Homo sapiens: one gene and its partner. The protein of the gene in region 1 interacts with the protein of each later gene in a biochemical or structural test. Each region holds a gene or a part of one and is shown on either strand. Other genes may lie near its edges.

The links. Proteins that work in one complex are often made in the same cells at the same time.
Region 2: the proteins of RND1 (region 1) and GRB7 form a complex in vitro, tested with the Homo sapiens proteins (one study listed by BioGRID).

What each region holds. Positions count from the first base shown.
Region 1 is NC_000012.12:48,856,469-48,859,920, forward strand, and holds the end of RND1 (rho-related GTP-binding protein Rho6 precursor), read right to left. Parts: intron 1,774-3,452; coding exon 1,528-1,773; 3' UTR 677-1,527; downstream 1-676. UniProt on the Homo sapiens protein: Lacks intrinsic GTPase activity. Has a low affinity for GDP, and constitutively binds GTP. Controls rearrangements of the actin cytoskeleton. Induces the Rac-dependent neuritic process formation in part by disruption of the cortical actin filaments.
Region 2 is NC_000017.11:39,740,938-39,744,361, reverse strand, and holds part of GRB7 (growth factor receptor-bound protein 7), read right to left. Parts: intron 2,111-3,424; coding exon of another isoform or gene 2,061-2,110; coding exon 1,906-2,060; intron 1,797-1,905; coding exon 1,646-1,796; intron 1,465-1,645; coding exon 1,308-1,464; intron 1,183-1,307; coding exon 1,061-1,182; intron 970-1,060; coding exon 892-969; intron 293-891; coding exon 155-292; intron 1-154. UniProt on the Homo sapiens protein: Adapter protein that interacts with the cytoplasmic domain of numerous receptor kinases and modulates down-stream signaling. Promotes activation of down-stream protein kinases, including STAT3, AKT1, MAPK1 and/or MAPK3. Promotes activation of HRAS.

The DNA.
Region 1 (3,452 bases):
GTGGGGTGGAATCTCAGCAGCTTGGATCCTCTACTGATGATTTCATCCAACCTTTTTCTCTCCTCTAGACTCTCCAGGGCAGTGGTTCTCAACCAGAATTTTTCCACAGGGGCCATTTAGCAACGTCTGGAGACATTTTTGGGTGTGATAGCTGGAGAGTGGGGTGCTGTCTTCTAGCATCCACCAGATCAGGGACACTGCTAAACATCTTGGGCTGCATAGGACAGTCCCTCACAACAAAGCATTATCCAGTCCAAAATGTCAATAGTTCCAGGGTTGAGAACCCCTGCACCCCTGCTCTCGGGCTAAGGAGCCCTTCCTTGGTTTAGTAGGTCTTGGGTGGGGCTAGGGCAGGGGGATGGGGGAAGAGAGAAGCTCCTTCTTGGAGGAGCTGGGGAATGGTGGAGGCAGCCCCTCTGCAACCCACAGAAAGGGTCCCAGGACAGCTTTTCTCTCATTATCATCAACCAAAGGGCTCAAGCACGGTGGCTCATGCCTGTAATCCCAGCTCTTAGGGAGGCAGAGATGTGAGGATAGCTTGAGCCCAGGAGTTTGAGACCTGCCTGAGCAATATAGCGAGACCCTGTTCTCCACAAAAAGGAAAAAAAAAAAAGACCAAAAAAAAAAAATACCAATTGTAACAACTAAAGAAAACAGAAAAAAATACGGAGCCAAATTCTTTATATGTATTATATTTTTCATTAATAAATAGGTTTTCTTCATTAAACACAGAACATATAACAGATTGAAACACTCCCCCCCTCCCCCCAATTCCAAAGACAAGAGTCTATAAAACAAATGCCAGCTGTACTACCCTAAGGGCAGAAAAAGTCTGGTGACCCCCACCCAGCCCTGCCCCTGCAGCACCACCACCCCCACACTCTGCAAGAGAAGGGGGTCTGGGGCTTCTCCCTTGGACCCTGGGGACTTAGGTGAGAAGCATGTGAATGTATGATGTCACCTCTCCATGAGGCATGGGCTATGCAAAGATGAGGTTTCCTTCTCATTGGCTCTGACCAGCTCCTGCACTTCCGATTGCAGTTACGAAGCACCTGGGCTAAGCCCCCAAGGGAGCTGCCGCTCCACTTCCCCACTCTCCGTTGCTGCCTCCTTAGAGGGGAAGGGAAGGGCTCAGGGACCCCTCCCATCCCCTGACCTGCATGGAAACGCTGTGTGGAAGAGGCATGAAGCTGAAGGTGAGGCTGCTGTAGGCCCCCAAGCCCATGAGGCCAGCATGCCCCCCGTCCCCCACAGCTTTCCTTCCTCTGGAGCGGGGGGGGCACTGGGGTAGTCGCCCCCTCCAAAATCTAGTGCCTGGCTTGGGGTATGATGGTTCTCTCTCAGCGTCAGGTCCTCATGCCGGGCCTGGCTCCTTCCTCGCCCCATTCCTGTCTCCTTCCAAGCCCTCACCGTGGCCATCTGAAAAACTCATGTCCAGTGTCCTAAATTGTCTCATCCTCCCTCTCCCCGTGCCTCTGCACCCCAAGGGAGGAAGTAGGGGGTTGTCTCCCCCCTCCAATTTCCACTTCACATAATGGAACAGCTTTTGGCCTTTTCCTTCTTGAAGGTAGAAGAGATGAGTTCAGAGCGACTGGGGAGGTGGAGCAGTCGTTTGGAGAGGCTTCGGACAGGGCTCTTCTGGGGCAGTGGGCTAGGCTTGTTCAGACACAGCATGGATGCCGTCCGAAAGATGCTGTGGATGCTCTTTTCTGAGGTGAAAGCTGAGCCTTCCAGGTAGATTTCTGCACCCAGCTGCTTTGCTATTGCACAACCCTGCAGGAGGGGGTGAGGGCATTAATGCAGTGGGCCAAAATGGCTCTGGGACGCTGCCTCTGTGCGTCACTCCCCAGGGCCACTCCAGAGGGGACCCAGCTGCCAGTCTCCAAACACCACCCTCTGCAGATTATTCGATTATCTTTTCTTTTTTTTTTTTTTTTTTGGCATACACCCTGTCTGATGATGCCTCTTTTTCTTAAGACGATGCCTGACTGCACATTATAAATCATCTGGAATACTCTTAAAACTATATTGATGCCAAACTAAATTAGAATTTCTGGGGATAGCTGGGGCAGTGGCTAGTGCCTCTAATCCCAGCTACTCAGGAGGCTGTGATGGGAGGATCACTTGAGGAGGCCAGGAGTTCAAGACCAGCCTAGGTGGCCGGGCGCGGTGGCTTACACCCATAATCCCAGCGCTTTGGAATTACAAAAATAAATCTCAAAAATAAAGATAATAAAATAATAATAAACACTTTTAAAAAATGTTTAAAAATTCACTGGAAGTGGGCACACAACTATAGTCTCAAATACTAGAGAGGATCCCTTGAGCCCAGGAGTTCTGCACTGTAGTGAGCTAGGATCACACCACTGCACTTCATTCTGGGTGACAGAGTAAGACCCTGTCTCTGGAAAAAAAAAAAAAAAAAAAAGGAAAAGGAAAAAAAAATTCTGGGTATAGAGCCAAGGCATTAGTATTCTTCTTTTTCTTTCTTTTCTTTTTTTTTTTTTTTTGAAACAGTCTCGCTCTGTTGCCCAGGCTGGAGTGCAGTGGCGCGATCTCGGCTCACTGCAAGCTCTGCCTCCCGGGTTCACACCATTCTCCTGCCTCAGCCTCCCGAGTAGCTGGGACTACAGGCACCCGCCAACACGCCTGGCTAATTTTTTGTATTTTTAGTAGAGATGGTGTTTCACCATGTTAGCCAGGATGGTCTTGATCTCCTGACCTTGTGATCTGCCCGCCTCAGCCTCCCAAAGTGCTGGGATTACAGGCGTGAGCCACCGCGCCTGGCCGGTATTAGTATTCTTAAGAGCTCCCCAGGTCAGGTGCAGTGGAGGCCAAGGCAGGTGGATCACCTGAGGTCAGGAGTTCAAGACCAGCCTGGCCAACATGGTGAAACCCCATCTCTACTAAAAATAACAAAAATTAGCTGGGCGTGTTGGCAGGCACCTGTAATCCCAGCTACGCAGGAGGCTGAGGCAGGAGAATCTCTTGAACCCGGGAGGCAGAGGTTGCAGTGAGCTGAGATCGCACCACTGCACTCCAGCCTGGGTGACAAGAGCGAAACTCAGTCCCCCAACCCTATGCTCTCATGCACATAAGAAATTATCCAGGGGTCTTATAAAAAATGCAGATTCCAGGCCAGGTGTGGTGACTCACAACTGTAATCCCAGCACTTTGGGAGGCCAAGGTAGGAGAATCACTTGATGTCAGGAGTTCAAGAACAACCCCGGAAACATACTGAGACCTTGTCTCTACAAAAAATGTTAAAAGATTAGCTAGGCGTGGGGCCCATACCTATAGTCCCAGCTACTAGGGAGACAGGAGGGAGGATCACTTGAGTCCGGGAGGTCAAGGCTGCATAAACAACTATTGTGCCACTGCACTCCAACCTAGGCAGATCACACTTTTTTTTCTTGAAATAGAGTCTCACTCTGTTGCCCAGGGATTACAGG
Region 2 (3,424 bases), on another chromosome or scaffold:
AGCTAGGCAAGGATGTAGGGAGAGATGGTAAACTGGAGGTGGCTGGCCTGGGGGGCCCAGGGGGAGAAGGGCTCAGAGGTTCCAGCAGAGAAGGGGCAACTTCTAAAAGGACCAGGGACTGGAGGGGCTGGGGCTGGTACCCTCAAGACCTTACCTTAGAGGTGCCCTTGGTGGAGTAATAGAGGCCAGATCGGCGCAAGAAGCAGAAAAAGCGTTTCCAAAGCTTCCGTCCTGAACCCCGCAGCTGCAGAAAGCCCTGGATCTCAGGAAAGCTGCCAGCATTCAGGAAGTTCTGAGCCAGAGGAGAGCAGAGGAGAGTGACAGGTCTGACCTCCTCCCTTCCCCTCTACCACCAGGATGTTTCTCTTTTTCTTTTTCTTTTTGAGACAGGGTCTCATGCTAGTGCGGTGGCACGATCACAGCTCACTGCAACCTCGACCTCCCGAGCTCAAGTGATCCTCCCACCTCAGCCTCCCAAGCACCTGGGACTACAGGCTCATGCCACCATTCCTGGCCTTTTTTTTTTTTTTTTTTTTTTTTTTGGAGAGACGAGGTCTCATTATGTTGCCCAGGCTGGTCTCAAACTCTCAAACTTCTAGGCTTAAGTAATCCTCCCGCCTCAGCCTCCCAAAGTGCTGGGATTATAGGCATGAGCCACCGTGCCCAGCCCACCCTCAGGTTTTTACAAGGAAATGCTCCACATGCATTTCTCGCCCCCATTTAATAGAAGAAACTGATGCTCAGGCAGGGAAAGTGACTGTCCCCAGTCACACAGGACTGTGATTTGGCTCTTTCTACAACATAGAGGGGAGGCACAGGACTTAAGGGTGGAGAAGCACTGGCCAATGCTGGGGAGTCGTGAATCTGCAGTGAAATGGGGGGTCCCCCCACCTGGATGAGGTCTTCATGGGATATACCAGTGTGTGCATCGAGACAGCTGGAGACCATTTTTTCTGGGAACAGGGAGTGCTGTGGGTAGACAAGTGTCAGGGATCAGGGCTCCAGCATCCAGGTTGAGGATCAGGGCATCCCAGCGCCCAGACAGCCCTCATGCACTCACTGGGGAGCTCTTGAACAGTTCGTACTTGGCGAAGTTTTTCCGGAAGACGAAGCGGCTATCTCCGCCCACGGGCCAGGCAGCCTGCACTTCCACCACGGACTCGTGGTCCTCCAAACCCCGCTCTGGGGACAAGGGCAAAAAGCAGGGGTTATTGGAGATCAACCAGATCTCCTGGATGAGCCACATGCCTAGCCCAAGATGCAAGGCATCATCTCCCAGCCCGGATAGTTCCATGCACCTGACTTACCCAGTGCTAGGTGGGGGTGGCACTCCACCAGCCCCCAGGTCTCGTCGCTCAAGGCGTGAGCTCGCTGCACCAGCATTTCACACACGTGGCGAGCTGTGGCACCTGCTGCCACCTCCACAGACCTGCAGGCCCCATCCTCACTGTACACCTTTACTACCTGCGCCCCAGGAATTGCACACGACTTGAGGGGAGGCAAAGGGTGATTCATTCCCTTTCCGCACCTGCTAGACCCTCAGGGACTCCTAACCAAGATCCCCTGCCTCCATGGAAGCGGCTGTGTATCTCCCACAGACCCAGAACCCGTGCATCCCTCCCTTCCCTTCTGAGGGACAACTCACATGGGGGCGGCTGGCATCGCGGGGGAGCAGCCCCCTTGCACTGGAGGGGCCCCCGAGAATTGGGCTCTGTGAGGGAGGACTGCAGAGCTCAGGGAAGGGGTTGGGGATAGAGGGGAGGGAGGTGGCACGCCTCTCCTCCTCTCGAAGTTTCCTGTGGCAAGAAGAAAAAGGGAGAGAGGTGTGGGGAAGGGAGCAGTGGCCTGCAAGCCTCTGTGTATTATCCAGCACTGACCTCCCCCAAGCCCCACGCCCCATCGTACCTGCCGGTGGTTGGGATGAGGAGAGGCTGGGACCTCTTTACCTCCTCAGGCAGAGGGGTATCAGGGGGCCGGGGAGTCCCAGGAGGGGTCCCAGGGGCTGGGCAAAGGTCTTCCGGAGAGCTGCTAAGATGAGGTGGAGACAGATCCAGCTCCATGGCGTCTGAGCAAGAGAGGGGCTTAACGGAACCAGTTGTGTGCCCTTGTCCTGGGGAGAGGGGATGAGAGAATTCAGACCTCCTGACCTCACACGGCGGTTAGGGTGCCCCTCAGAGTTTACCTAGCACCTCACTGCTCTAACTGGAGTTTCCCTGAAGCCCTTGGGGAAGGACAGAATGAGCCTCATTTTACAAAAGGGGACACCGAGTCTCTGAGAAGAAAGCATTCTTGCCCTCAGTCACAGGTGAGTCGGGAGTAGAACCTGTGTTTAGACTCCAAGTCCAGTGCTCTTTCTGTTTTTTTTCTCCTTTTTTTTTTTTTTTTTTGCAGCGGCGTCATCTCCACTCACTGCAACCTCCACCTCCTGGGTTCAAGTAATTCTCGTGCCTTAACCTCCCGAGTAACTGGGATTACAGGTGCCCACCACCACGCCCGTCTAATTTTTGTATTTTTAGTAGAGACAGGGTTTCACCATGTTGGCCAGGCTGGTCTTGAACTCCTGATCCGCCCGCCTTGGCCTCCCAAAGTGCTGGGATTACAGGCGTAAGCCACCACGCCCGGCTCCAGTGCTCTTTCTTTAGCACAAAGTTGCTCACAGGAAGAGCTGAGGGTCCACCCACCACAAGCCTGGTGGTCACAACAGATTTCACAACCCACAGACTCTCAGGCTCAGCCCTCAGGGTCAGGGCAAAGGCCCACTCCTTTGCCTCCACGTGTGGGGCACTCACTGCGCTGGGCTGTGCCCCGGGTTTTTCCAGCACTTTGTTGCCAGACCCAGTTGCCAGAGCCTGTTCATACTTGGCGAGGTTTGGCCTGCCCAAGTGATGAGTGATGCAGAGGGGAGAAGGAGGTGGGGAAGGATGGGAGTCAGAAAGGCAGGAGAGCGGGCTCCGCTGCAGTGCAAGGGGGAGAGCAGGGCCTGGGGTAGGGGTCCTGGCCCCAGCAGCCCCCAAACCTTGCGTACCCTCCCCAGGCCATCCTCCTGCCCAACTCTTTCCTGAAGCCCCAGTGCTAGAGCCACCTCCTCTGAGAAGCCTTCCTGGCCTTCCACATTCAGACTGAATGACTCTCTCTCAGCACTGTGCGGGGGCCGCATCATCCATTACTGTGCACCTGTCCTATCCACCCATTTGTCTGAGGGCACCTGGTACCCCCAGGCAAGGCCAATCTCACCCATGTCTTATCACTTATAGGGGCTGCACAGACACTCAAGACAAGTAAAGACAGGACAGCAGGCAAAGACGAGCACTAGAGGTGGAGGTGGGGCTGGCACCTTCTCCGCAGGAACCCAGCAGACCCCTTTGGCCGGGCTGAGACCTGGGAGAACCTGCAATCCCAGCCCCCAGCCTGTTCTCCAAACACT